Linked DNA regions of Homo sapiens: all the other regions are linked to region 1. The links come from fine-mapping of genetic effects on gene expression. A gene starts in region 1. Each other region holds a variant in brackets. All regions are shown on one strand. Distances are between the middles of the regions.

The links.
Region 2: its variant is fine-mapped to the expression of SLC36A1 in whole blood (INTERVAL, PIP above 0.99).
Region 3: its variant is fine-mapped to the expression of SLC36A1 in cerebellum (GTEx, PIP above 0.99). The same link has a PIP of 0.9 or more in left ventricle and skeletal muscle.
Region 4: its variant is fine-mapped to the expression of SLC36A1 in whole blood (TOPMed, PIP above 0.99). The same link has a PIP of 0.9 or more in Th17 cells and non-classical monocytes.

The regions. Positions count from the first base shown.
Region 1 is chr5:151,446,611-151,449,296 of GRCh38, forward strand. It overlaps SLC36A1 (solute carrier family 36 member 1), which reads left to right and starts at 993. Exons shown (of 11, transcript NM_078483.4): 1 at 993-1,203. RefSeq lists an enhancer at 973-1,022.
Region 2 is chr5:151,355,452-151,358,137 of GRCh38, forward strand. All of the region lies in intron 5 of LOC105378234 (a long non-coding RNA gene), which reads right to left. It also overlaps a transcript of SLC36A1 not described here. Among named protein-coding and RNA genes, the nearest start is that of SLC36A2, 9.2 kb to the left of the region's middle. The variant G/A (reference allele first, on the strand shown) is at 1,593.
Region 3 is chr5:151,479,908-151,482,593 of GRCh38, forward strand. All of the region lies in intron 10 of SLC36A1 (solute carrier family 36 member 1), which reads left to right. Among named protein-coding and RNA genes, the nearest start is that of SLC36A1, 34 kb to the left of the region's middle. The variant G/A (reference allele first, on the strand shown) is at 1,568.
Region 4 is chr5:151,472,293-151,474,978 of GRCh38, forward strand. It overlaps SLC36A1 (solute carrier family 36 member 1), which reads left to right. Exons shown (of 11, transcript NM_078483.4): 8 at 1,381-1,479. Among named protein-coding and RNA genes, the nearest start is that of SLC36A1, 26 kb to the left of the region's middle. The variant CTTTTGCTTTG/C (reference allele first, on the strand shown) is at 1,340.

The sequences.
Region 1 (2,686 bases):
TCATATTATTATGGTCTGAAAGAATATTAATATGATTTCAATCTTCTTAAATTTAAGGCTTGTTTTTTGGACTAGCATATGGTCTATTCTAGAGAATGTTTCAAGTGTGTTAGAGAAAAAATGTGTATTCTGTTTCTGTTGAATGGAAAGTTCTGTATATATCTGTTAGGTTCATTTGGTTTAAAGTGCAATTCAAGTTCATTATTTCCTTATTTTCTCTCTAGTTGCTCTATCCATTGTTGAAAGTGGGATATTGACCCTCCTACTATTGTGTTGCTATCTATTTCTCCCTTCATGGCCATTAATATTAGTTGTATGTATTTAGGTGCTCCAATTTTGCATGCATATATATTTACAGTTGTGTCTTCTTGATGAATTGACCCCTTTATTATTAAACAATGATCTTCTCTGTCTCTTGTGACAGTTTTTGACTTGAAGCCTATTTGTTACATAATTGTTAAAGGAAAAGTCTGTAACAAGGAGGTAAAAGGAGAAGCCTAGATAATACAATACTGAAATGTTGCCATCCATTTAAAAATGTTACTTTAAAAATTTGAATGTATTAAAAGATAATGTTGCCCTACCCCACAGTTCCATTTCCAGTAGCAACCACAGATGATAGTTTGTGTATGCTTCTGAAAAATTGGAAGTTTTAAAAATATGCATATTTCTTATTATAAAAGCAATACAAACTCATCGAGATGTGTAAAAGAAAATACAGCCAGTGTAAAAATTAGCAATATTTCACAAACCCACAACTCAAGGGACAGTGCTCTTCGACTGGACTCTGCCCCATGCCCAAGATCAATGCCCTGTTCAGTTCCTATTCGCAGTCCCCAGCGCCCAGGAACATAGTCCTTCCAGCAGTGGCAGTAATAGGTCGCCAGGTGGTGCTGTGGAGCAGAGCTCCGGAGCTCAGTGAGAAAAAAGGCGCGGCCGCTCAAGGGAGCACGTGACCTCGGCCTCTGGCGTGGGCGGTGGGATCACGTGATGAGGTCCGGAAGCGGCTGCCGGGCAGCAAAGGAGGATGGCGAGGGGCTGATACTGAACCCGGGAAGGGTGGGCTGTGCTGAAGCCAGAGCCGGAGCCGGAGCTGGGGCCAGAACCCGAGCAGTGAGTTCCTCCACTGGCTGCCGGCTGGCGGCGCTCGCCGCCTTGGGCAGGACCCACCTCGCCTTCCTCCCGGCGTGGCAGATGCTCCAGGTCAGGCACTGGATCCGCCCGGGCTGTGGGTCCGCGACTCCTTGGCGTCCCCGGGCCGCAGCTGCGGTACGACGCTGACACCCCTCTGTGAATTGGGCGAAGCGTGGAGATCCCTTGTCCCTCGCGCTATCTCCCTTGACCTCGTGGGGTTGGGATCTCACCGTCCTGTTTGACTGACAGGTGGGGGAAACTGGGGTAGATGGTGAAGATAACCCAAAGGACCATCTAGGGCGTCTTTCACGCTTCGCACAGGTCTCCCCGTTTCCAGCAAATGTCTTGCCCGCTGCGGGAGCGCTGCTTGAGACAGGCTCATAATGGGTCTTTGGGTCAGAACTGCAAGGACGCTGGGAAGTCGTCTGGTGCAGCTCCCTCCTAGGACAGTTGGAGAAACTGAGCCCTTACTCCGGGAAGGGGTAAGGGCTTGCCTAAGGTCATCCAGTGAGTTAATCGGAGACCCGGAGACCTGCGACTAGAATGCAAATGTTCCTAAGCTTCAGCAGCTGTTTGCTTTTCGCCACACCGCCTCCTGCGGGAAACTTCACCTGTGAAAAGGCACTCCTTTCTGTCCCTTTCTCTTTTAGTCCTCTCCCTTTTTAGCTGTCTGCATTTTCCACCGCTGGGGTTGGATTTGCTCTGGGTGTGGTTCCCTGTTTGTTCATTATTTTTCTGCAAACTCATCCTTCTGTAGGTTTGGTTTCTAACCTTCCTGCATTCTATGTAAGTCACACCAAAATATGAAATATGAATCGGAATGTGCTTCTGGGAAGATAGGTGGCTGAGCCGAGGTTGTGGAGAGCCCTGACGTTAACTTGAAGAATGTAAAGACCTTTGCTTTATTTTTTCTGTAACTTGTCAGATTTGGGATTGCTTATTTGGATGGACGTTTTGCAGTTATTTGAATTTTGCTGAAGATAGCATCATGGTGCAATGGACAGAACAGAGATTGGGGAATCAGGATATTTTGTCCTAGCTCTGCCGCTTACCTGGCAACCTTAAGTGACTCGCGTTTGGGTTTCTCAGTCTAGACAGTGATGGAATTGAATTCTTAAGGGCCCCTTCTGCTGTGATCTGGATGTTGTGCATCTTTCTAGGCTTGTTTTTTTGTTTGTTTGTTTTTAAATAGAGATGAGGTCTCACTATGCTGCCCAGGCTGATCTCAAACTCCTGGGCTCAAGTGATCCTCCCACCTTGGCCTCCCAAAGTATTGCGATTACAGGGGTGTGAGCCAGTGCCCCTGACCAGGGTCTGTTTGTTTTTTTATTCCGAGAGATTTTACCCGCTGTGTACACTGAGTATCAGCCTTGCAACAAGACTTAATCTAATTGTGTAGGAAGCAGTTTCCTCTGCTTATTCCTCTGTTGCTATAAAATCCTCCTCCTCTTTCTTCCTATCTCTGTATTATGTCTAAGCTAAATACTAACAGCTGAAAATGATTTTTAACTGTCTGTTATTATTTTAAACATGATCAGGGCCCTCTTCTGAC
Region 2 (2,686 bases), 91 kb before region 1:
AGTGCATTCCTTTTAACTCTGCAATTTAATTTCTAATAATCTCTTCTAGAAATGCTCACACACGTATACCCCAGGGTGTTTACTGCAGCATTATCTGTAATAGCAAAAAATGGAGACAACCTGCATGTACCACAGGAGGATAATTGTTCATAAATTATCCTAATTCTATTGAGTGGAATATTGCCATGGCTGTTAAAAAGACTCAAGCATATCTGTATATACTGACGTGGAGGGAGATTTAGGATATATTACTGTGAAATATGAAATGTTCATCACACTAAGTACAACATGAACCCATTTTTCAAAAAACAAATGGAATCAATTTATTTTTGAGAAAAGCATAAAACCGCATACATCTCCAACTGCAAGAACCCAAACATAGAAAATACACATGCATACACATCTTGTATACACATGGTTGTATATGCTTGAGAAAGATCTGGAAGGATTCACAGTAGTTCCTCCTGCAGTGTGAGAATATAAGTGGACACTTAGGGGTGAAGCAGATGTGGGAATTTTGTATTTTAATTCCAATGTTTTTGATTTTAAAGGCATATTTAAAAATTAATATTAATGTGCTATTTTGTAACAAAATTAAAATTTTACAAAGGATATGTTAAGAATACAGGAGGATCCCAGAACTTTGGGAGGCTGAGGTGGGTGGATCACCTGAGGTCAGGTGTTCAAGCCCAGTCTGGTCAACATGGAGAAACCCCATCTCCACTAAAAATACAAAAACTGGCTGGGCATGGTGGCTCACACCTGTAATCCCAGCTAACTGGGAGGCTGAGGCAGGAGAATCGCTTGAACCTGGGAGGTAGGGTTGCAGTGAGCTGAGATCACGCCACTGCACTCCAGCCTAGGCAACAGAGCAAGGCTCTGTCTCACAAAAAAAAAAAAAAAAAAAAAGAATACACGAAGACCTGATAAAGTGCTAGAAGAAAAGTGCTACGAGAGAGAGATGAGGCGTATATCTGTTACTCACACCTCCTCCGAGCTGGAGCCAGCAAACTCTAGGAGGAGAGGGGCTGTCATCTTTGTGTTCCCTTTCATCCTTAGGAACTACGTGTGTTGGGCATATAGTAGGTCTCTGGTGGCTGAATCTTCTCCCTGAAATGCCCTTCAGGCACTGGCTCTCCTCCTGAATTTTTGCAAGAGGAAATTCAACATTGAAGTCCAGTTTCAAGTACCCCCCTCTCATCCACTTACTCAAAGACAAGGAAGCAGTTCAAAAAATCCCTCCACATTAAAGTTTACCTCTGGGCATTCAGTTGTGGTCAGCCCCTCTTCTAGGCCATAGTTCTCTGCCATAAATTCAGTGAAGAACATGCTACACAACTGGGGGCAATTTTCTCTCTCAAATTTAACTTCAGACCTAACATTTCCCTTCAACCTGCTCATGATTTCCTGTGCAATTCCTTATTGTGGATCAATAAGGAAGAAAAAAATAGGAAGCTAGATAGGGTCAAGGGAATGAAGCCAGGTAGCTGATGATAATATTCACACAAGCAGGGTGCTCCCATAGGTAGAGGACTATGCAGGTCCCCAAGCACTTGACCCATCCAGAATCTCCTTGATGTTAGCAAATCTAA[G/A]AGGAAGAAGGGTAGGAATTATAGTCCCCATGTTACAGATAAGGAACTCGAAGTTCATCGGTTTAGTGATGCCCATGTGTAGTGGTAGACAACTGGAAAATCTTCATTTCCTAGATTTCTGACCCCCATTCACAAAGCCACAAAAGGCCTTTCCCTGGATCACAGCCGGAACCTCACTTAAGCCACAGGCCCACATAGCTAAGGGCTTTAGCGGTGGTTGTGTGATAATAGGTGGTAGGTAGTGAGAGAAAGGTGGTTGGCTGCCAGTATCAGCATGACAAAACCCATCATTGTTCTTGGCACTAAAAGGAGCACTAGCCAGTTTGGGTGGTTCTTCTGTCAAGGGAGAGATGGAGCTTCCATTGCTGTTTTTGGAGAGTAGGAGATTTTGTGGACTTTTACTTCCTTACAAGCTGAATGATAGGCCTTTTGGGCCAAGTATTAATACTAATCTTATCTGATTTATCTCTTCTTTTGAAATAACCTAAAGCAGGGGTTAGTAAACTATGGCCTATTGGCCAAATCTATCCTGACACCTGTTTTTAGAAAAAAGGTTTTATTGGAACTCAGGATGCCCATTCATTTACGTATTGTTTAAATCTGCCTTCATGCTACATTGGCAGAGTTGAGTAGTTGTGACAGAAACCATACAGACCACGAAGGTTAAAATATTTACCATCTGGCTCTGTATAGAAAAAGCTTGCCAACCTCTGACTTAAGTCAACATATATTTTCTGAGCATGAACTCTGTGCCTTCTTGCTCTTTTACTTCCAGAAATCTGCTGGTATTCTCCACGATTAAAACCTAAATCTTGTGGCATCTGTTAAAAGAAAACCTATAGACAGATAAGATTTAACAGTGTTTAATTGAGCAAAGAATGATTCATGAATTAGGCAACCCCAAGACCAGAATAGGTTCAGAGAGCTCCAGGCTGCATTGTGGTCAGAGAACTTTTATGGACATAAAATGGAAGTGAAGGACAGAGAGAACTTGATTGGTTAAGGCTCAGCATTTGCCCTATTTGACCACGGTCTGCTCAGTTGGCTGCCTGTGATTGACTGACTAGGCAGCTGTGATTGGCTGAGACTCAGCT
Region 3 (2,686 bases), 33 kb after region 1:
TAGATTTCCTTTAGAGGCTTTATGATAGTATTCTAGACATTTTTTAATGTCAGTCTTACTAAATATGTTTCAGAAAATTTCTATTGATTAACCTAGGTATTTGATTGATCACTTGTGTTTTATTCTTCTTCTCTCAACCCCATTCCCAGGAGTGTAAGTTAAAAGACAGGATACCCTTCTGTTTGCTGTGGTTGAAAACTGGTGACATTTAGAAAATAAAAGTAAATTTTTTTTGTAGCTTCTGTGAGTTGGTAGACTAGAGAACCCCTGAGCAAATCGGTTGATAATAGCTAATTTAAGTTTCTAAGAGATTTGCAATTGTTTTCCAAATTCAAATGCTTAAAAGCATAGATTCCTCTTTTTGGCTCTATTTGGCTTTTTTTTCTCTTTTTAGGTTTTATTATTTTTGAACAAGAACCTCTTTGCTTATTATGTTGAGACTTCCCTGAGAATTTTCTTAAATTATTCAGTCTGAGCCTCTGTCTTTGGGATAAAGATAGATCCATATGACTTTTTAAATTCTAATTAGGGTTGAATGTTTTAAGGATGAAAGATGGGAAAGTTGTCTAGCATTTGCTCTTAGTCACTCCTTCAGGCCCTCTCCTAGACCAGCCTATATAGAAACAGCCCACGCAGCAGCTAATCCAGGGGCCAGGGCTGTTGAAAGCCAGCTGCTGTTCCCACAGCGACTGAAAAAGAAGGAACATGATGTATCCTGCTTTTCTAATAGATTGCCTTAATGTGTGCTGCTAAGATGGGATGCTTGGACTGTAAATTTTAATCCTATCTTGTGCCAGTAACTCTCCATGCTTTGATTCCAAAGTGTATGTTTCCACCGTGGATGGAGTAGCTCTAAGTGCTTGAGGAGACAGCTTTCACGTGTATGGTATTTATAATGTAAACTCTGAGGGCCCAATTCTTAAATCTAAAGGGCACTGGAAGAAAGAGTGTGGTTAGTTCAAATAATTTGCTTTTATCCAAAGTGCTCCCTCCGGAAAAAGTAGGTCTCTGTAGGTAAAATGTGCCTTCCTGACTAAACAGCTCCTCCACCCTGCCTATTGAGCTGGGGCAGTGACAGGAGCCTGACTCCTCTCCCTGCCCAATTTTCCCCTCCAGCCTGGCTCAGCCTCCCTGTAGCATATGTCACACTTCCTGCCAGGTTTATTTCTGCAGCACCCTGCAGGAGACAGCAGTCTCTGATTCACAGACCTCATGTTATCCTTAGATGCCTCTTGGATTTTGCTTCACTTTTCCTGGCCCTGTCTGTGAGTCTCATCTCCCTTCAACAGGACGATGCTCAGAAGACACGGCTGCTTTTGGTCTTCAAGTGTGTGCAGTTGTTTTTCCCTTCTGTGATCTGTTGTGACTTAGCATTGCATTGTCATCCTGTTCAAAAAGGCAGCCCCCTTTATGTCTGAGAGCACTCGCCTCTCTCACCTTCCTTGGAGACTTTGAAGTAATTGTGGGACTCAGTAGAGGCCTTTCATGGCAGCAGCAACTTAAATGTATTTATGCGCGTTCATTTTGTTCTTGCTTCTCTGTTCTTTCAGATCTTTCAGCACCGTTG[G/A]TTAGTATGTGATTTTAGATCTTTAATTGATTTTTTTCATTTATATTCATAAATTTTAACAGCAGCTTCTTTTATTACTATTTCTGGTGTTTTCCTATCTTTTCCCCAACTTTTCCTCCTCCTCTTCACCCTCCAAAGGGAACAGGAGGAATTCAGTGTAGTTTCTTTTTTTTTTTCCCTCTTGGAATTCAACTTTCTCACCACTCTCCCCCATCCTCCAAAGATTACTATGGCTGATACGGACTTTGTGATGCTTAATTTCAAACAGTTGGAGAAGAGGGGGAGGGAAAACAAGTATTTCATAGGATAGTGCTCATTTTGTTATGATTTCATATCGGACAGTATCTACTTCCAGCCCATATTTTTGGAAATGCGGACTTAGCAGGTCACCTTATGTCCAGACCTTGTGTGGAAGAGGCTGGCCCCACCTGTGGAGTCTGGAGTTGTAGGATCAACGGTTTTTTAGATTTCTTTGGAGCAATAACCCATCCATCCTTCAGTGATTCATACTGATTCTCTGTGTCATTTGCCATGTGAAACATTTTACTTCAGTTTGCTATGAAAATTTCAGAAACCTATTTCTGAAGATATAATTACCTAAAATCGCATCATCCAAGAAGCCTGTTCAGACTGGAATGCAGAGCTGCAAAACATTCCAAGCAGTCGGATTTTTAGAGGATGAAGCTTCCAGGTCCAAACAGAGTAGCTTCTTAGTACCTTTGGGCCTTTCACACTTTTTAGTCTTGCAGCTACAGTGAAGAAGAGCAGCATCATTAATTAGCTGTGTAACCCTGCCACCCCCCACCCTGCATTCCCCGCCCAGGAACCCTCATAAGGCCTCAGGGTCCTCAACTGTAAGATAGGAAGGGTGTCTGACCTCTAAGGTTTCTCTCAACTCCAAAATTCTGTGATTCTGTATAGGTGCTTTGCGCTTGATTTTAAGTTTCTACACAAATATTACTCTAAAAAAAGAAAGTCAATGTAAAAACATTTGGGAATAAAAGAAGAAATTCCAGTATTCCACCAATTTAACAAAGTAATTTTTTTTTGCATTGTATCTTCTGTGTCTTAATCCTCATGGGTGCCTTGTAAAAATAGTTGCAATTGTAGTTTACACAT
Region 4 (2,686 bases), 26 kb after region 1:
TCTAGCCTTTTCACATTCTTCTGCCTGCTTTTTAATCTGGCCACTGGCCGAGCTGGCAGCTGATTAGATTGTGCCCATCCAGATTAAGGGTGGGTCTGCCTTTCCCAGTCCACTGACTCAAATGTGGCAACACCCTCACAAACACACGCAGGAACAATACTTTGCCTCCTTCAGTGCAATCAAGTTGACACTCAGTATTAACCATCACAACCTCCTTCCTTATACAACCTTAACATTGTACCTGCAGTTAACAGTTGCCCTTTTTCTGGCCCATTTTTTAAAGCATTCTTTTTGCTCCTCCTCCCCACATGTTCCAGCACTCCTGTTGTGTGCTTCTTGGTAATACTTTGAAAGTGCTCAAGTTCATTGATGAGAATTTTAAAAAGGAGAAGAAAAGAAGAGGAAAAAGGAAGAGAACCAATATAAAAATGTACCACTTTCTCTTCCCTTCCAGCTTTATCTTTGATGTTTATGTAGTTGTATCAGAGTGAATATATAAATTAAAATTAAAATTTTTTCTCACTAATATTTCGTAAGTAGTTTTTCATGTTCTACTTAGTTATCTCAATTTTTACTTTTTAATAGTGCATACTGGCCAGGCGCAGTGGCCAACGCCTGTGATCCCAGCACCTTGGGAGGCCGAGGCAGGCAGATCACTTGAAATCAAGAGTTCACAAACAGCTTGGCCAACATGGTGAAGCCCTGTCTCTACCAAAAATATACAAAAAATAGCCGAGTGTGGTGGCACGCACCTGTAGTCCTAGCCACTCAGGAGGCTGAGGCACGAAGAATTGCTTGAACCCAGGAGGCAGAGGGAGGTTGCAGTGAGCCGAGATCTCGCCACTGCACGCCAGCCTGGGTGACAGAAGGAGACTCTGTCTCTAGATAGATAGATAGATAGATAGATAGATAGATAGATAGATAGATAGATAGAATATATATTCTGTGGTTTAGCTGGTATGTTGTTAATTACTTAACTGATCCCTTGTTTGGAAGCACTTATATTGTTTTCAGTTACTTTATTAAACAGCTTTGCTCAGTGTTTTTCATCTTTTGATTTTTTTTCTACTTGAATTCAGTTTCTGGGGATGGGATTACCTAGTGAAAGAATGTGACTCTTTTTATGCAAGCCCCAACATTTGAGTTTTTAATAGTACCTTGGGCTTGTCTTTCCCCCAAACAAGTGGGTTTTTCTTAGCCTGAAGAGAAAAACATACAAAGGTTAAATGTCCCTAAATCATCTGTCAGGTATTAGACTTTCTTCCTTTAGAGAATCTTGGATTTGTTAAAAGGTATGACCTCTCCGATTCAGAGTTCAAATCTTGAATTTCTGTATAGC[CTTTTGCTTTG/C]TTTTGCTTTGTTTTGCTTTCTGTCTTTCAGAGGATCCCAGACCCCAGCCACCTCCCCTTGGTGGCCCCTTGGAAGACCTACCCTCTCTTCTTTGGCACAGCGATTTTTTCATTTGAAGGCATTGGAATGGTAAGAGCTGCACTGTGATTTGGGCTAGTGTTCTCTGGTGCCCTTGGTGTTCTCCAGGTCTGTTTCAAGGAATGCTGAGGAAACATTGTTAGAAAGTATCTTCTGAGGCCAGGCATGGTGGCTCACGCCTGTAATCTCAGCACTTTGGGAGGCCTAGACTGGTGGATCACTTGAGGTCAGGAGTTCGAAACCAGCCTGGCCAACATGGTGAAACCCCATCTCTACTAAATATACAAAAATCAGCTAGGCATGGTGGCACACGCCTATAATCCCAGCCACTCGAGAGGCTGAGGCAGGAGAATTGCTTGAACTGGGGAGACGGAGGTTGCAGTGAGCCAAGATCACGCCACTGCACTCCAGCCTGGGTGACAGAGCGAGACTCTGTCTCAAAAAAAAAAAAAAAAAAAAGAAATTATCTTCTGTAACTCACTGGTCAGTTAGTGAATAGTGTTTCGGGGATTCCATTGAGATTTCCCAGCTTCAACTTTTCAAGACAAATTATATGTAATTTTAAAATGTTTACATTCAAGGCCCCTTCACTGCACACTCATCTCCTATGTGTGCAGTAAGGAATAGCATATGGCAATCAGGAAGGCAGGGTCTAGAGTCAGACTGACATGGGGGTAAGTCCTGGCTCTGCCATAGAGTAGCTGTGTGACCTTGAGCAAGGGCTTCATCTCTTTGAGCCTTCATTATTTGTTCCTGAAAAGTGAGCTTAATGATTCGTAGTTATTAGGATTAAATGAGATATGTGCAAAATGCTTTGCACAGACCCTGACACATGGTAAATGTTTAATAGATTTTTATTTTATTAATAATGTTATTTTATTATTGAATCAATAAATGCATGAATAATTTCTCTGCCCTACAACATTGGTTTGGTGTATTTTCTGCGTGCAAAAGAGCAGCCTTCACTCCTGGCTCAGCATTCTGTGATTTCACCAAATGCTTTTCCTAAAAAGGAATCTACCCCTCACTTTTACCTAATTTGAATTTTATTTGTATTTTTCATAATAATGGTACAAAACTCTTCTCTGAAGAAAGTTATTCCTGGCCAAGGGCGCCACAAATGGGAAGAGCCTCCTCCCGGCACGGCACTTCTTTCTCTTTTTTGATTTCCGAGACACCTTATTTGCTTTTAAGAAAACCTAGAAGCTGTACACATTTTTTGTCAAAATCGTGAGAAATCACCCAGGTGGTGTTGATG